Homo sapiens: one gene and its partner. The protein of the gene in region 2 interacts with the protein of the main gene of each other region in a pairwise test. Each region holds a gene or a part of one and is shown on either strand. Other genes may lie near its edges. The genes, in order: OLFM4 and KIR3DL3.

Region 1 (3,829 bases), on a different chromosome or scaffold from region 2:
TGTCATATATGCAGTCTGTCATAGACAAAAATGTTATGCAGCAAATGACTGTATTTTCCAGAAGAAGAAAAAAATGCAGAAAGTGCCCCAAGTGCCAGATGTGGGACTGGAGGCTCCCAGGCAGGCTGGGCTGCCTCTCCCAAGACTGCACCTCCCAGGAGGAGCTGACATGTGGTCAGCATTGTCCACGCATTCCCAAAGCTACAGATTCATATATGTGAAAAGTTCATATGAATGATTTACTTAAATTAGTAAAGTTCACACTCTGAAGTCTTTCTGGCCCATCCCCAAGCTCTTTTGTGTCTTCTCTAACTCCATGGATGATTGCCATTTTCCTGAACACCACTGAGCATCCTTTAAGTGTCAGCTGAAGAACCTTGAGTTTTTTCCTCAAATGGATCTTTACAGACCCTTCATTTTGTCTGCACCAGGGCAGGCACACCACACATTTTTATAGGTAACAAACTCCAGAATATGCCTTGCTTTTTTTTGTGAAAATCTAGGAGAACCACATTTTATTTAGCAGAGATGACAGTTGAATCACTCATTTTTGTAGAACAACAGCTGCGATGTGCCACCAAAATGTTCCAGAGAAGCTGAGGGTGTTTCATTTGTTCCAAGAGCTGGCAAGGCCAAATGCCAACAAGCATATTTATTTCTCAAACTTCCATTTCTGTAATGGATTGGCACTTTATTTATTTTTATCATAGTCAAGGTTTTATGCCTGAGTTTTGTAGACACTGGAACCTGGCAGCCCTATATCTGCAGTGCACTTCTCAGGGGGACTTGTTAGGTTTTATATATAGTGAGCCCTCCATAGCCTTGGTTCCGCATCTGCAGATATAACCAAACTCAGATTGAAAAATTTCACGGAAAAAAACTAATAAAAATAACCATGTAACAACAGGAACTATACAAATAAAAAACAATACAACAATGATTTATATAGCATTTACATTGTTTTAGGTATTATAAGTAATCTAGACTTGATTTAAAGTATTTGGGAGGATGTGTGTAGATTGTAGGCAAATACTGTACCATTTTCTGTCAGAGTCTTAAGCATCCTTGAATTTTGTTATTCTTGGGAGGTTCTGAAACCAATCCACCATGGATACTAAGAGGTGGCCGTATATATGTTTTAACCTCCCTATCCACCAAAATATCACCAGCTTTGTCATCCTCCGAGTTATGGTACATCCAATGGCAGTGAGCATCAGTTGCCCGAGGAGATACACTAGCAGTGCCAAGGACTGTTTTTTCGACTTTCATTAAAATCCTTTTTGCCTGAAGCCCTAGCCCTTCAGGTCTGTGGTCTATGAGTCTACTTTAATTTGCACAATGGGGTTAAGTGGAAGGGCTGAAATGACAGAAGTTAGGATTGCTTTTGGTATAAGAAGGATTAAAGGCCAACATCTGGCTCTAAATTCATCCAGGCACTGTGGATCAGCTACTTGATATTAGTGTAGTTTTGGGAAAAGTATCACTTCAGTTCAAATTTTTAAAAAGCATATAAAGCCAGCAACTTATTTAATGAGCAGGTCCTTAAAAAAGCCATGGCATTTTCTTTAGAGATCAGACACAGAAAGAACCACCAACTGTGTTTATTAAAATATCCACTTGGATATTCCAATTATACACTAAACTGCCAAGGGAATTTTTGGAAGTATTTTAACTTAATGATCAGACATTCAAATATATGCAACAAATCTGTAATTTAAAGGTCTGATTGCAATAATCAGTTCTTGGAATAAATGTGGGTGCACTTAATGAAATGTGTACTCTACAGGGCACACACACTCACATATTGTGTAGTAGGTTGGATCTCTATGCCACTTTGTAAAAGGCAGAGGGGATCAAAACTAATTGTATATGGCGATCAAAGAAGGAATTCGGCATAGCGCATTTCTCCCTTCTCCAGAAAATACTTAGATGTAGAGCCATGTTTCTAAATGGAAGGAGGGTGGTGTTGGCCGTGGCAACGATTTTGTCCCCAGGGAACATTTAGCAATGCCCAGAGACATTTTTGGTTATCATAACTGGAGAGTGGTTGGATGCAACTGGCATGAAGAAGCCAGGGATGCTGCTTAATATTGTGTAATTCACAGCACAACCCCCACAAGAAATGACAATCCAGTCCCAAATGCTAACAGTGCTGAGGTTGAGAAACAATTAGAGTAAGTGTGTTGAAGGGAGGAGAGATGGCAAGAGACTATGATACAAACCAGTTTAGTTTGGGGAGTTAATGTCTTCAAACATTAAAATGGAGATTAAGAAAAAAGGGCTCAATATCACTTGATCATTAGAGAAATGCAAATCAAAGCCATAGTAAGATACCATCTCATACCAGTCCAGAATGGCTATCATTAAAAAGTAAAAAAATAACAGATGCTGGTGAGATGGCAGAGGAAAGGGAACATTTATACACTGTTGGTGGGAGTGTAAATTAGTTCAGCCATTGTGGAAAGCAGTGTGGTGACTCGAAGAACTAAAAAGAACTATTATTCAACCTAGCAATCCCTTTACTGGGTATATGCCCAAAGGAATATAAATTGTTCTACCATAAAGATACATGGGCGTGTGTGTACATTGCAGTACTATTCACAATAGCAAAGACATGAAATCAACCTAAATGCTCATCAATGGTACACTGGATAAAGAAAATATGGGCCATATACACCATGGAATACTTTGCAACCATAAGAAAGAATGAGATCATGTTCTTTGTAGGAACATGGATAGAGAGCTGGAAGCCATTCTCCGAAGCAAATTAACACAAGAACAGAAAACCAAATACCACATGTTCTCACATATAAATGAGAGCTAAATGATGAGAACACATGGACACAAAGAGGAGAACAACAGAAGCGTACTTGAGGGTGGAGGGTGAAAGGAGGGAGAGGAACAACAACAAAAAAATCTATTGGGTGCTAGGTTTAGTACCTGCGAGACAAAATAACCTTTACAACAAACCCCCATGACATGAGTTTACCTATATAACAAACCTGGGTATATACCCCTGAGCCTAAAACCTTTTTAAAAAATGGAGATTAAAATATACCTGCAAATGATGATGCTGAAGCAAAATTATGTTTAGCCTAGCAAAGTATAAAATCTACCTCCCTTCAATTGGAGTAATAAGTTCTTTGTATATGGATAGATTTTAAAAATCTAGTTAAATGTATTTTTGATCTATTTATTTACAAAACACAATGATTGGCAAGAATCAAATAGTTCTCAACTCAAGGGCTCGGTAGTGGAAGAAGATGGTGTGATACTACTCAGGGAATTGGCTTGAACCTTTTGATTTTCTTTCAGGTGAGGGAATATGTCCAATTAATTAGTGTGTATGAAAAGAAACTGTTAAACCTAACTGTCCGAATTGACATCATGGAGAAGGATACCATTTCTTACACTGAACTGGACTTCGAGCTGATCAAGGTAGAAGTGAAGGAGATGGAAAAACTGGTCATACAGCTGAAGGAGAGTTTTGGTGGAAGCTCAGAAATTGTTGACCAGCTGGAGGTGGAGGTAAGGAGTGAACTCACTTCTTGGTAAATTAATAATAAACTCCCTTCAGTGACTGTAAGCAAGTACTAGTACCAGGAAGTGAAACTATCTCTTCCAACTTCTAATTCTCTACTGTCTCATGGCCACATGGCATATCACTATGTTCTGTTTTGGATAAGGGCATGTGTTTGAATAGTAAGTTAAGCACATTGGGAATGTGCTGACTTAGGAGCAGATGTTGTCTAATGGTCAGAATCCTGCCCCAGAATAAAATGCCCTTTCAACTTCTCTGAAAAGGAGCTGGCATAAAGTTGAACAACGG
Region 2 (3,829 bases):
AACTCTGTCTCTACTAAAAATATAAAAATTAGCCGAGTGTGGTGGTGGGAGCCAGTAACCCAGCTACTTGGGAGGCTGAGGCTGGGGAATCTCTTGAATCCTGGAGGTGGAGGTTGCAGTGAGCCCAGATGGCGCCACTGCACTCCAGCCTGGGCAACAAGAGTGAAACAGTCTAAAAAAAACAAAAACAAAAACAAAAACCATAAAACAAAATGTAAAAAGACACTTCCAGAGGATCTAGCAATTCCATGACTGGGTGTAAACCCAAAGGAAAGGACATCAGCGTATCGAAGTGACATCTGCACTCCCATGACTGTTCCAGCAGTGTTCACAGTAGCCAAGATGTGGATCAACCTACCTGCCCATCAGTGGGTGAATGGATGGAGAGAATGTGGTACACACACACAATAGGGACAACTCATCCATAGAAAGAGTAACATCCTGTCATTTACAGCCACATGAATGGAACTGGAGGTCATTACAAGTATTTCCATTTCTCACTCATATGCAGGAGCTAAAAGGTGGATCTCACAAAGGTAGAGAGTAGAATGGTGGCTACCAGAGGCCAGGAAGGGAAGGGTGGAGGGTAAAAAAAAAAGAATACTAATTAATTAATTAATTAATTTTGAGAGAGTGTCTCTCTCTGTTGCCCAGGCTGCAGTGCAGTGGCATGATCTCAGCTCACTGCAACCTCCGCCTCCTGCAATTAAGTGCAACTCCTGCCCAACCCTACCAAGTAGCTGGGACTACAGGCATGTGCCACCATGCTCGGCTAATTATTATCATTATAATTATTATTTTGTATTTTTAGTACAGATGGATTTTCCCCATGTTGGCCAGGGTGGTCTTGAGCCCCTGATCTCAAATGATCCACCTGCCTTGGCCTCTCAAAGTGTTGGGATTACAACCGTGAGCCACCGTGCCCAGCCTATAAATGTATTTATGAACAGTAGACTTCACACTTAAAAATGGTAAAGGTGGTAAATTACATAGGTATATTTCACCTCAATAAATATTTCTTCAAACAAAAAGAAAAGGGTGTAGGCGTTGCTGGTGATGACATCTCTCTGTGGGTGACAGGCCAGGATGGGCTTCTGGGAAGTGGGTAAGGTTGAGGGGCTGAGAGAACCTCTGATCTCCCCAGGCAGAGCCCAGTCTCCCTCCTCTGGGTCTGTTCTGACCTCTTTCTCCATCTGCCTGGGTGCCTGGAACCCTGATCAAGGGCATCCTTGCAGGCCATACAGGAGGGTTTGGAGGTGCCCTGTCTGCCATCCTGCGCCCTGACCCCGCCCTTACACCCATGCTGTGTGTTCTGTCTCGGCATCTGTCCATGCTTCTCTCCATCATCAGCAGGAAGCTCCTCAGCTATGGCTCTAGGATCACAAGACATGGGACAGGCATGGTGTTTTCTCACCTGTGACAGAAACGGGCAGTGGGTCACTCGGGTCTGACCACGCATGGGGCAGGGCACGGAAAGAGCCGAAGCATCTGTAGTTCCCTCCGTGGGTCACAGGGCCCAGAGGGAAGTTGGCCTGGAATGTTCCATTGACCCTCAGCACTGCAGTGAGCCTAAGTTCACCGGCCTCCGCCTCCCTGGATAGATGGTAAATGTCAAACAAGCTCCGGGAGCTGCAGGACAAGGTCACATTCTCTCCTGCCTGAACCGTGGGGCCCGGCTGGGCTGAGAGAGAAGGTTTCCCATATAGACCTGGAAGAAGAAGAGGTGGTTTCCTCAGGGAGGTTCTTCCTTGTCACAGCTCTCCTCACACCTGAGCTGAGAACTCACTCCCCTGCTCTATGACTTAATGCTCTCTTTCTCTCTCTCACCCTCCACCCCCATCTCTCTTCATGTCTATTTCCTCCTTCCACCTTCTCTGTCTCTCTAGGTCTCTGACCTCACTTCTCCATCCCTAGCTATGTTTTCTTTTTTTGTACCATTTTATTCTCTCTGACCCTCCTTGGACTGGTTGACTTGATCTTCCTCTTTCTTTAATTCTGAGTCTCTCACTTTCTGTCTTGCTCATAACTTTCTGCATATTTCTATCTATTATCTATTGATCGATCTATCATTTATCTATGTATGTATCTATCATCTATCATCATCTGTGTATCTATGACCTATCTCTCTGTTATCTATCATCTATCAATCAATGTATGTATGTATGCATCTATCCATCTATCATCATGTGTTTATCTGTCTTTCTATCTCTCTATATCTATTTATATATCATCTGTCTGTCTTTCTACTTGTCTATCTATATCATCTATCAGTCATTCATCATCTATTTGTCTATCACCTGTCTCTCTATTATCTATCATCTACCTTTTATCTTTCATCTATCTATATCTATCTGTCCATCTATCATCTGTCTCTCTCCATCTCCTTGTCTTTCTCTGCCTCTCAGTCTCTCTAGTTCCCTTTTGGAGTCTCTGCAATCCATCCTCACATCTTTATCTTTCCCTGTCTTTGTGCCCCTCCCTCAGGGCTCTGATTTTAGGGCTTTTCTCTGCTTCCTTCCATCATACGCTCCACTTCTCTGCCCTCTTTTTCTATCTCTTTATGTGTCTGTGAGTCTCTCAATTCCCTTCTTCTGGCTCATTCTGTGTGTGTGTTCATGTCTTTGCTTTTTGATTTCCCTGATTTCACTCCGTGTCTCTCTGTGGGCTTTTGTTCTCAGTAATCCTATAACATGTGGTGCTATTTGAATATGAGCCTCAGAATCCAGTATGGGGACTCCAGGAACTCACAGCATACAGGGGTTGGTGTTCTGCTCCCTCACCTGGGGCCATGGTGTCCTGGGACGATGACAGCTCCACTGCACGGAAGGCAGAGGTTTAAGAATAAACACAACATCTGTAGGTGCCACCAGCCTGGGGCCACATGGCCCAACTCAGGCCAGATAGATGTGTCTCTTTGGGTTCTCCTGGGAGAGAACACTTTGTAGAGGTAAAACAGAATGGAACCTTCTAACCTGTGCCTGGTCTCTGAACAAAGTCAGCATAGAAGGACACCTCTCTCTGGGATATGTCTGTCTCTCTGTGTCTTCTTTACCTCTTTATCTCTTTTTCTAACACCTTGTATGGCCCCTGTGTCTGGCTTCTATGTTATGACATGAGGTCTGTACTTGTGTCTCCTGTTTCTCTGCCTTTGTTGGTACAGACCTCACCAAGTCACTTTCTCTCCATAGGAACCCCACACTCATCTTCCTCATGACCACCTGGGGCTTCCAGTCCTAGATCATTCACTCCATCTCCCAGCAAGGGTGAGAGGCAGGTCTGTATTCTCTCACCTACGACCACGATGTCCAGAGGGTCACTGGGAGCCGACAACTCATAGGGTAAGTGAGTGACAGAACCAAAGCATCTGTAGGTCCCTGCAAGGGCAGGTGTCATGGGACCCATGGAATAGTTGACCTGGGAACCCGCATCGTGGAGCTGTCCAACGAGGCGCAAGGGGTCCTCAGTGATCCCCTCTCTGTGCAGAAGGAAGCGCTCAAACCTGACATCTGACCAACATTGCAGGATGACCGTCTCTCCTGATTTCACCAGGGGACCTGGGTGGGCCAGGAGGGAAGGTTTTCTGTGGACTCCTAAGAAGAGAGGTTGTGAGTTCAGAAGGCGTCTCCCTTTCTCATCCCATTCATGGGACCTGAAATAAGTGAGGCTTCCCCTCCATGGTGTCTATCTCTCTCCTTCCTGTCTGTGTCTCCGTGTTCTTTTGTGCCCATAACCCCTGTTGCAGGTCCCTCCATCTGTCTCCCTCCCTCTTCCCTGTCTCTCTGTCTCTAGTAGCCCTGATTCCCTTCCCACTGTGCTCAGTGTCACCTCT

The links.
Region 1: the proteins of KIR3DL3 (region 2) and OLFM4 interact in a two-hybrid assay, tested with the Homo sapiens proteins (one large-scale study listed by BioGRID).

What each region holds. Positions count from the first base shown.
Region 1 is NC_000013.11:53,038,595-53,042,423, forward strand, and holds part of OLFM4 (olfactomedin-4 precursor), read left to right. Parts: intron 1-3,315; coding exon 3,316-3,528; intron 3,529-3,829. UniProt on the Homo sapiens protein: May promote proliferation of pancreatic cancer cells by favoring the transition from the S to G2/M phase. In myeloid leukemic cell lines, inhibits cell growth and induces cell differentiation and apoptosis.
Region 2 is NC_000019.10:54,727,372-54,731,200, reverse strand, and holds part of KIR3DL3 (killer cell immunoglobulin-like receptor 3DL3 precursor), read right to left. Parts: intron 3,591-3,829; coding exon 3,291-3,590; intron 1,709-3,290; coding exon 1,415-1,708; intron 1-1,414.